Linked DNA regions of Homo sapiens: region 1 is reported to be linked to region 2. The links are microRNA targets in miRTarBase. Many come from high-throughput screens and were not tested one by one. Region 2 holds a microRNA gene; the other region holds the end of a gene's coding sequence.

The links. Region 2 holds the annotated microRNA hsa-miR-1229-5p (GUGGGUAGGGUUUGGGGGAGAGCG, at 2,916-2,939, shown strand). A microRNA usually pairs through its seed, bases 2 to 8, with sites in the 3' UTR of a target mRNA and lowers its output. Matches are read on the target gene's strand: a 7mer-m8 pairs with bases 2 to 8, a 7mer-A1 pairs with bases 2 to 7 and ends in A, and an 8mer does both.
Region 1: miRTarBase lists HOXA7 as a target of hsa-miR-1229-5p. Seed matches in the 3' UTR shown: 7mer-m8 at 3,240-3,246.

What each region holds. Positions count from the first base shown.
Region 1 is chr7:27,151,513-27,155,512 of GRCh38, forward strand. HOXA7 (homeobox A7) reads right to left here. Exons shown (of 2, transcript NM_006896.4): 2 at 2,204-3,710. The coding sequence ends at 3,397. It overlaps HOXA3 (homeobox A3), which reads right to left and starts at 1,071. Exons shown (of 6, transcript NM_153631.3): 1 at 776-1,071. HOXA-AS3 (HOXA cluster antisense RNA 3) reads left to right here. Exons shown (of 3, transcript NR_038832.1): 2 at 63-169; 3 at 782-4,000. RefSeq lists an enhancer at 3,007-3,591.
Region 2 is chr5:179,797,114-179,801,261 of GRCh38, reverse strand. MIR1229 (microRNA 1229) reads left to right here and starts at 2,916; the gene lies at 2,916-2,984. MGAT4B (alpha-1,3-mannosyl-glycoprotein 4-beta-N-acetylglucosaminyltransferase B) reads left to right here. Exons shown (of 15, transcript NM_014275.5): 5 at 309-355; 6 at 665-778; 7 at 1,003-1,078; 8 at 1,194-1,308; 9 at 1,626-1,756; 10 at 1,952-2,059; 11 at 2,141-2,334; 12 at 2,671-2,749; 13 at 2,828-2,915; 14 at 2,985-3,097; 15 at 3,194-3,652. The coding sequence ends at 3,217.

The DNA of each region.
Region 1 (4,000 bases), not on the chromosome of region 2:
CTCTGCACCGAAACTTCCCACCAAGTAACACCCAATTAATCCCATCCTCTCCTCCAACACAGAATTCCACCCACGCACCTATTCCCCCTCCCAGCGCTTCAGACACCTCTCTCATCGAAAAACCGGGCGAAGGGAAGCCGGCAACGAGCGGAGAACTCTGGCTGAATTAGTAAGTTTTTCTGTTTCCCCCTTCTACCTTTCTCTCTGAAACCAATTCCCACGGAGTAGAAAGTGCTGTGCTGATGCTAATAAAATGCCTGTGGATTAATGCACTTTGCCCTCACCTCTTCCCACCTTCCCAGGTCAAGGATGGTCTCCTCTTGTTGGGGAATCCAACAAAACCAAATAGGGCCATGAATGAAAACACAAAAATCCAAACCCAAAGGGCTGGCGGGGAACACAGTGTGCCGGGCCACTTCCTTTTGGGCTTCACGGGGTCGCTAGGGAAGGGGAGAGAGACGACCCAAGGGATGCTGCCCTGTGCCTTGGCGCTGTGCCACGGAGGGCCGAAGGAAGGCGGGCACTTACTGCCAAGGCGAGCCAGGGAGGGGAGAGAAAGGGAGTGGTGTGTGTGTGTGTGTGCGTGCGCGCGTGTGTGCCTGTGTGTGTGACGTGTGTGGGCTGTAGTGTGTGATGGGGGCAAGTGTGAATGGGTGAGTATGGGTAAGGGGGAGTATGCCCCTCTTAAAGCCTCCCTGGGTGCCCTCTCCCACCGCTACCGCCGCCGGCTGTCGCCTCACCACCTTTGCTCCTATCTCCTCCCCACATGTCTCACCTTCAGACGGTGGCTCCCAGAAGCTCCTGCCCCTCTGACAGCTGTCGCTTGGGCAGCCCGAGAGAAGAATTGTCCTCTTTCCTGGTGCCAGAGGACGCAGGAAATTAGCCAGGTTGCGAGTTGCAAAGCTGCTGCCGCGGCGCCGGGAACGGAGCGCGCCCAATCTCCAGCGGGAGCCGCCAGGCCTGGCCTGGCCGGGGCTTCCCTTCGCTCGCCATCTCCGGACAAAGCACAGCCGAGCCCGGCTGGAAGGCAGAGCTCCGAAGCAGGCAGGACGGAGCGGAGCAAAAGAATGCGGCTCTATTCTCGCAAGGGAAATTATAAAAAAGTTCATGTTCACGGTTCTCATCCACATGACCGACAGCGGCCAATGGAAGGGCCGAACAACTCATAAAGTTGTATTGCAAAGTTGTAAATTTTCATAAACAACAACGGATTTATGACCCTTTCCCCATCACTGAGAGGAGGCAGCTCTTACACCGGCGCCATCTTACCACCGAGGCCGCCCCGACTTGGGGCCTCAGGTTTTACAGACCCTTTTGGGCCAGGTTTTACTAAAAGAGCCATAAGAAGCGGGCCCAGCCCAGGCAGGAGACTGGAGACGAGGTCTTGCAGGCGGAACTCAGGATGCTCTGAGCTGCCCGCACAACCCCTGGACCTTCACCCCTCGCCCCTTCCCCGCATCCAGCTGCCCCAGCCCCTGCCCAGGCTGCGTAGCCTAGCGGGGGTCTGCGGTCCTAGCCCCTCCCCGCGCCACCTACTGCAGTGCCGGACCCTGGGGCCCCCTCGCCTGGTCTGCAGGCGGGGTGGGGACCTTAAATCCCATTTCCTAGCCTGGGGCTGGGTTCAGGGCGCATGCGAATCCGGAATCAGCTCTGGGTAATGCCCCTTTCCAAGCCCACTGCTCAGCCTTAGAGGAAAGTGTGGATTTGAAATTTCCTCATGGAATTGATGGAGGTTTTTAGGTAGATTCATAGAATATAACGTATCTACCAAAGATTCCGTTTTCAAGGGATCTAGAAGATGTTAGTGCACACGCAAAAACCAGACAAACGTCTCTACACGGATAAAGGCACATATACAATTATGCACACAGGGAAGGGCATACACTCTATTGTGGGCACAGAATGACATGCAATTATGGACACACAAAAACACATGCACCCAATTATGGACACCAAAATATATACAATTGTGGAATTAGGTAAAAACACACACACAGAAATACATACACAGAAAAATAAGCACATACTCATACAAATACACACATAAAAATACATTAAAAAGATACATGACACCAATACATGGGTACCCAACACTTGGACCATCACAAGGACAGCCACCCCACTTTTGCTTCCCCACTGCCCCCTGCCCTCCAGCCATACTCACCTCCCCTTTCCCAGTCCCCTCTGGATAAGGCAGTCCACATTTTTCTTTGTCACCACGCATCTTTATTTTCGGTTACATAAAACACAGCTGGGCTGGGAAGTGTGCCTTCCCTGAACCCCAGGATGGAGCTGAGCAGGGTACAGGACAACACAGGAGATGAAGGGCATTGCGGAGGGCATTGGACCTCCCCACCCACTACAGTTAACTCAAGACAACATACCATGCTACAAAGTCACCCCATTAACACATCCTTTCCAAGTCAAGACACTGCCTTACAAATGAACTCCAAGACTATAGAAATGATAAAAAAAAATCTTGTTCAAATATACAGTATCTGCTATTATAGGAAACATCAGGGCGTACATATTTAACACAGCTGAACAGTAAGATACAGGAGCCAGAGGAAAGGACAGCGAAGCTGGAAGCATCTCCACAGTCCTGCTAAGCAGAAGCTAACCCACAGATCTGCAGCCAGCTCAGGAACATTCCCCTCCAGAAGTGGGGGTTGATGGGCCTGAGCTGTGGGTGCCAAGCCAGAGAAGGAGGGATTGATTCTAGGGTGCAAGCACTTAGGATGCTTTTTGGAATAAATATATTATTTTTCGATTTAAATAGATGCCAATACCCTGATCCTGGACCTCAGCACATTCTCAGGGCAGCCTCAGGGACCCCAAAAGCTGCGGGCTGTAAGCAGCAGGGGACTTGCCTGGGAGCAGTCGGCACTAGGTAGCAGGCAAGCCAGCCAGCACAAAATAGGTAGTTTTAGGGGAGTAGGTAGTAGTGAGATTCACTTTCTTGCGGGTCTGGGAGGGTGGTGCTGGGTGTCTGCCAGTGTTGGGATACATAGGGACTTCCTGGGAATGGAGGCCCTCTGGGGCTGGATACATAGGTAGTTTGGGGGTGCCTCGAGCAGAGGCCTGTGCTAGGTAGTATTTTGGACGCGCCAGAGCAGGGCCGGCTGGCCTGGGGTTGGGGGTGTCTTTTGGGGTCCTCGGAGGCAGAGGGAATCCAAGGCGACCCAGTCTCTGCGGCCGCTCAGTCCACAAAAGTTGGGAGCTGGAGTAGGTGATGGGGGTGGGTAGAGTGCAGGTTGGGGACTGGGTTGCTTTTTTGTTTTTGTTTTTGTTTTTTACATTTTCTTTTATTTTTCCCATTTTTGTAAGTAAAACCAGTGAGTCTCTTAAAGACGCTTTTCCGACTGTCCGGTGCAGAGAGGGCCCCGGATCGGCCCCTCATTCCTCCTCGTCTTCCTCTTCTTCATCATCGTCCTCCTCGTCGGCCTTGTCCGCGGCAGCAGTGGCGGCGGCAGAGGGCACGGCGCCCTCGGGAGCTGCGGCGGCAGTCGGACCTTCGTCCTTATGCTCTTTCTTCCACTTCATGCGGCGGTTCTGGAACCAGATCTTAATCTGGCGCTCGGTGAGGCAGAGCGCGTGGGCGATTTCAATGCGGCGGCGCCGCGTCAGGTAGCGGTTGAAGTGGAACTCCTTCTCCAGCTCCAGCGTCTGGTAGCGCGTGTAGGTCTGGCGGCCCCGCTTCCTGTCAGGTCCTGAGAACAGACATGCAGACACATGAACACAAGGACAGACAAGTAGACAGGGCACTCGTTAGGCTGCTGTCCCAGAGCCCGCACCTTCCTCCTGGCCTAGTCCCCAGCGAGCATCCCCCTCTGCCCCAGGCCCCGAACTGAGCTAGGGGAGGAGGGGGAGTGTTAGGGAAAGACCCCAACTGCAGTGCCAGACGCGCAGGCAGCTCTGTAATGAGCAAAGGCACAGAATCTCAACTTTACAACCGACCTTTCCAGCCGGCTAAGCTTCCACAATGTCCTGCTTCCTCTGA
Region 2 (4,148 bases):
CATTCCGAGGAGAAAGCTGTCGGAAGTTCAGTTGCTAGTTTCATTCGCAAATGCTCCGAGATAGAAAGTTGAAAGGGCTTTCTGGCACCCTCTACCCCTACCCATCGCCCCCGCCACCCCCTAGTCCTTGGCCATGCGAGTCCCAAAGGGAAAGGGCCGTCTCTGGGGGCCCCCTTACTCCGCCCTCAGCACAGCAGGCTCACTCCCTCCACGTGGGGGGCATCTGAAGCCTGTGCCCCTTCTCCAAGCCCTTCCAGGCCTTTTGGGGCAGCAGCAGGGCTAAGGGAGGGTGCTTGGTCTCCCCACAGACTGACTCACAGTACACTTCGGCAGTGACAGAGAACATCAAGGCCTTGTGAGTACTGGCGACCCCAGAGAGCTGGTGGCGGGAGAGCTCGGTGCGGGGTGTTGTGCTGGCAGGTTCCTGCCTCCCCATGAGATAGTGCCTTTCCTATCTCGTGGGGAGGCAGGGACCTGGTGGGGGAGGGGTGGGTGTGCAGAAGTGGCCCAGCCCCTCTGGAGCTCTGCTACCTCAGTTGGCTGGGTGTAGGGGGTGGTGGGGGGCTGGCACTGGGTGAGCCTCAAGAAAGGGCCACAGTCTGGTGGGCTCGGCCCCTCTCAGCCCCTGGAGGCTGCATACGGACTAGGCCTTCCCGTCCCCCAGGTTCCCCACGGAGATCCATTCTGGGCTCCTGGAGGTCATCTCACCCTCCCCCCACTTCTACCCTGACTTCTCCCGCCTCCGAGAGTCCTTTGGGGACCCCAAGGAGAGAGTCAGGTACTAGTTACTCCCCCATACCCTCAGCAACCCGCCTGCCTGTGCTGAGAACCCATCTACTGGTGTTTGAGTCCAGGGTGTTTCCCTGCAGTGCCCTGAATTCTCCATGGGAGGACCCGTGCATGGGGGTGGGGGGACAGAAGCTGCCCACCCAGCGGCTTCTCTGCGGAGCCACAATGGAGGTGGAGGGGTCTGAACTTCTGAGGCCCCGCCCCGGCCCACAGGTGGAGGACCAAACAGAACCTCGATTACTGCTTCCTCATGATGTACGCGCAGTCCAAAGGCATCTACTACGTGCAGGTCAGCCCCAAGCCCTGCGTTGCCCTGCCCTGCCCTGCGCCGCCCTGCCCTGCGATGGGTCTGGTCCATCTGGGTGCCCTTCCTCAGCCCCAGCCCCTCTCTGCTCACCTCGCAGCTGGAGGATGACATCGTGGCCAAGCCCAACTACCTGAGCACCATGAAGAACTTTGCACTGCAGCAGCCTTCAGAGGACTGGATGATCCTGGAGTTCTCCCAGCTGGGCTTCATTGGTGTGCCCCTCCCCTTACCTGACGGTGCCTTTCAGTCCCACCTGCCTCTGCCATCCTCTCTCCCAGTCCCACTGTGTCCACTGTGAGCCTTTGCCCAGGTGGGCCCTGCCTGGTGTGCGTGCTACAGCCCCACCTGGCCTGTTCTCATTGCCTGTGCATCAGACATGTCTGCCCTCATCACCTGTCTGCCTCCCTGCCCCGTTATGCCCACACCTGCCTGAAGCCTGCCCCTGGGTTTGCTGTGGGACTCGGGGGCCGCTGCAGGGAGAAAGGAAGTAGGCAGAGCAGCACTGCCCACTCAGGCCCCTCCCCACCAGGTAAGATGTTCAAGTCGCTGGACCTGAGCCTGATTGTAGAGTTCATTCTCATGTTCTACCGGGACAAGCCCATCGACTGGCTCCTGGACCATATTCTGTGGGTGAAAGTCTGCAACCCCGAGAAGGATGCGGTGAGCAAGAGCTGGCGGGACTGGCAGGGGCAGGGCCAAGGGGCAGGCAGCCTCCACCCCAAACTGTGTCCCTGTCCTTGCATCTGCTCACATAGAGCACTGTCAGCTGTGGGAGGGCCCTGGTAGTCCCCAGGAGAGGCCGTGTTGAGGAAGGAGGGCTAAGCCGAGCCCTGGGGTGTTGCCCACCCTCCACAGAAGCACTGTGACCGGCAGAAAGCCAACCTGCGGATCCGCTTCAAACCGTCCCTCTTCCAGCACGTGGGCACTCACTCCTCGCTGGCTGGCAAGATCCAGAAACTGAAGGTGGGCTGCACTGCACGCTCTCCCTAGGCCGGGATCAAGGTCGGGGCCCACGCCATCACTGCTGTCCCTCCTCCGCTGCAGGACAAAGACTTTGGAAAGCAGGCGCTGCGGAAGGAGCATGTGAACCCGCCAGCAGAGGTGAGCACGAGCCTGAAGACATACCAGCACTTCACCCTGGAGAAAGCCTACCTGCGCGAGGACTTCTTCTGGGCCTTCACCCCTGCCGCGGGGGACTTCATCCGCTTCCGCTTCTTCCAACCTCTAAGACTGGAGCGGTCAGTGCCAGCACCATGGGTCTGCGATGGGGGCGGGGCTGGGTGGCCCCCAGGGTGTAGGCTTCACCGGCAAGTTATCCTCACGTTCTTCAGTTTCCGCATCTGAAGTGGGCCTCGTAATGGTAGCTACCTTGTGAGGACTAAGTCAGGCAGCCCCTAGGAGCTCAGGGATGTTTCCTGTCACCATCCTCCCAGAGGAAGGCCCTGGTCTCTTTGCACAGCCTGACAGCTGCCTGGGGGGCCCTCCTGGCGCAGGCCTGGCCTTTCTCTGCTGGGCCCTGGGTGCTGTGCTGGAACGCTGCCCCTGCAGCAGCTCACAGGCCTGCCTGGCTGCAGGTTCTTCTTCCGCAGTGGGAACATCGAGCACCCGGAGGACAAGCTCTTCAACACGTCTGTGGAGGTGCTGCCCTTCGACGTAAGTTCGGTGGGTGTGGTGTGCACTGAAGCCGGGCCTCCTGTGACCACCTGCCTCAGCCCTTGATTCTGCCCCCAGAACCCTCAGTCAGACAAGGAGGCCCTGCAGGAGGGCCGCACCGCCACCCTCCGGTACCCTCGGAGCCCCGACGGCTACCTCCAGATCGGTGGGTAGGGTTTGGGGGAGAGCGTGGGCTGGGGTTCAGGGACACCCTCTCACCACTGCCCTCCCACAGGCTCCTTCTACAAGGGAGTGGCAGAGGGAGAGGTGGACCCAGCCTTCGGCCCTCTGGAAGCACTGCGCCTCTCGATCCAGACGGACTCCCCTGTGTGGGTGATTCTGAGCGAGGTGAGGCTGGGCAGGGCCAGGCCAGGCACGGGGAGCAGCCAGGGAGACCCTGGCGGAGCTCAGAGGCCCTGCTGACCCTGGGTCCGGCTCTTCCAGATCTTCCTGAAAAAGGCCGACTAAGCTGCGGGCTTCTGAGGGTACCCTGTGGCCAGCCCTGAAGCCCACATTTCTGGGGGTGTCGTCACTGCCGTCCCCGGAGGGCCAGATACGGCCCCGCCCAAAGGGTTCTGCCTGGCGTCGGGCTTGGGCCGGCCTGGGGTCCGCCGCTGGCCCGGAGGCCCTAGGAGCTGGTGCTGCCCCCGCCCGCCGGGCCGCGGAGGAGGCAGGCGGCCCCCACACTGTGCCTGAGGCCCGGAACCGTTCGCACCCGGCCTGCCCCAGTCAGGCCGTTTTAGAAGAGCTTTTACTTGGGCGCCCGCCGTCTCTGGCGCGAACACTGGAATGCATATACTACTTTATGTGCTGTGTTTTTTATTCTTGGATACATTTGATTTTTTCACGTAAGTCCACATATACTTCTATAAGAGCGTGACTTGTAATAAAGGGTTAATGAAGTGTGTGCCTCAAATGTGAGCGCCCTGGGCATCTCCCTCTGCCCCTGCGGTTGGCTTCATTTGGTCTGTGCCCCAACATGCCAACTAAGCCTGGCACTGGGCCTCCCCAGCCAGCATCAGCAGCGACCTTTCCCTGCTAAGTCAAGGAGCCAGCCTGGCCTGCAGGCGCGGGGTCCAGCCCCTGGCTGTGCAGCTGCAGTGCCACCTCGGCGCCAGCGTACCCCCCTTCCTAGGATCAGGCCGCAAAGTCTGTCACTGGTGAAACCAGCTCAGAATCTGGGACCACAATGCCTATAGCAGGTCCCCCGAATGTCTCCCCCATGTCCAAGGCCTGCGATGAGGCCTTCCCTTAGCTCCTCAAGCTGAAGGCATTTCCCAGCCTCCTTGTTCCCCTCCGTGTGTCTCAGCTTGGTCCTCATCCTGGGTCCCCGACACTCCTCTGGCACATTAGGGTCTCCCGCTCACCTCAGGGCCTTTGCACACACTGTTGCCCCTCC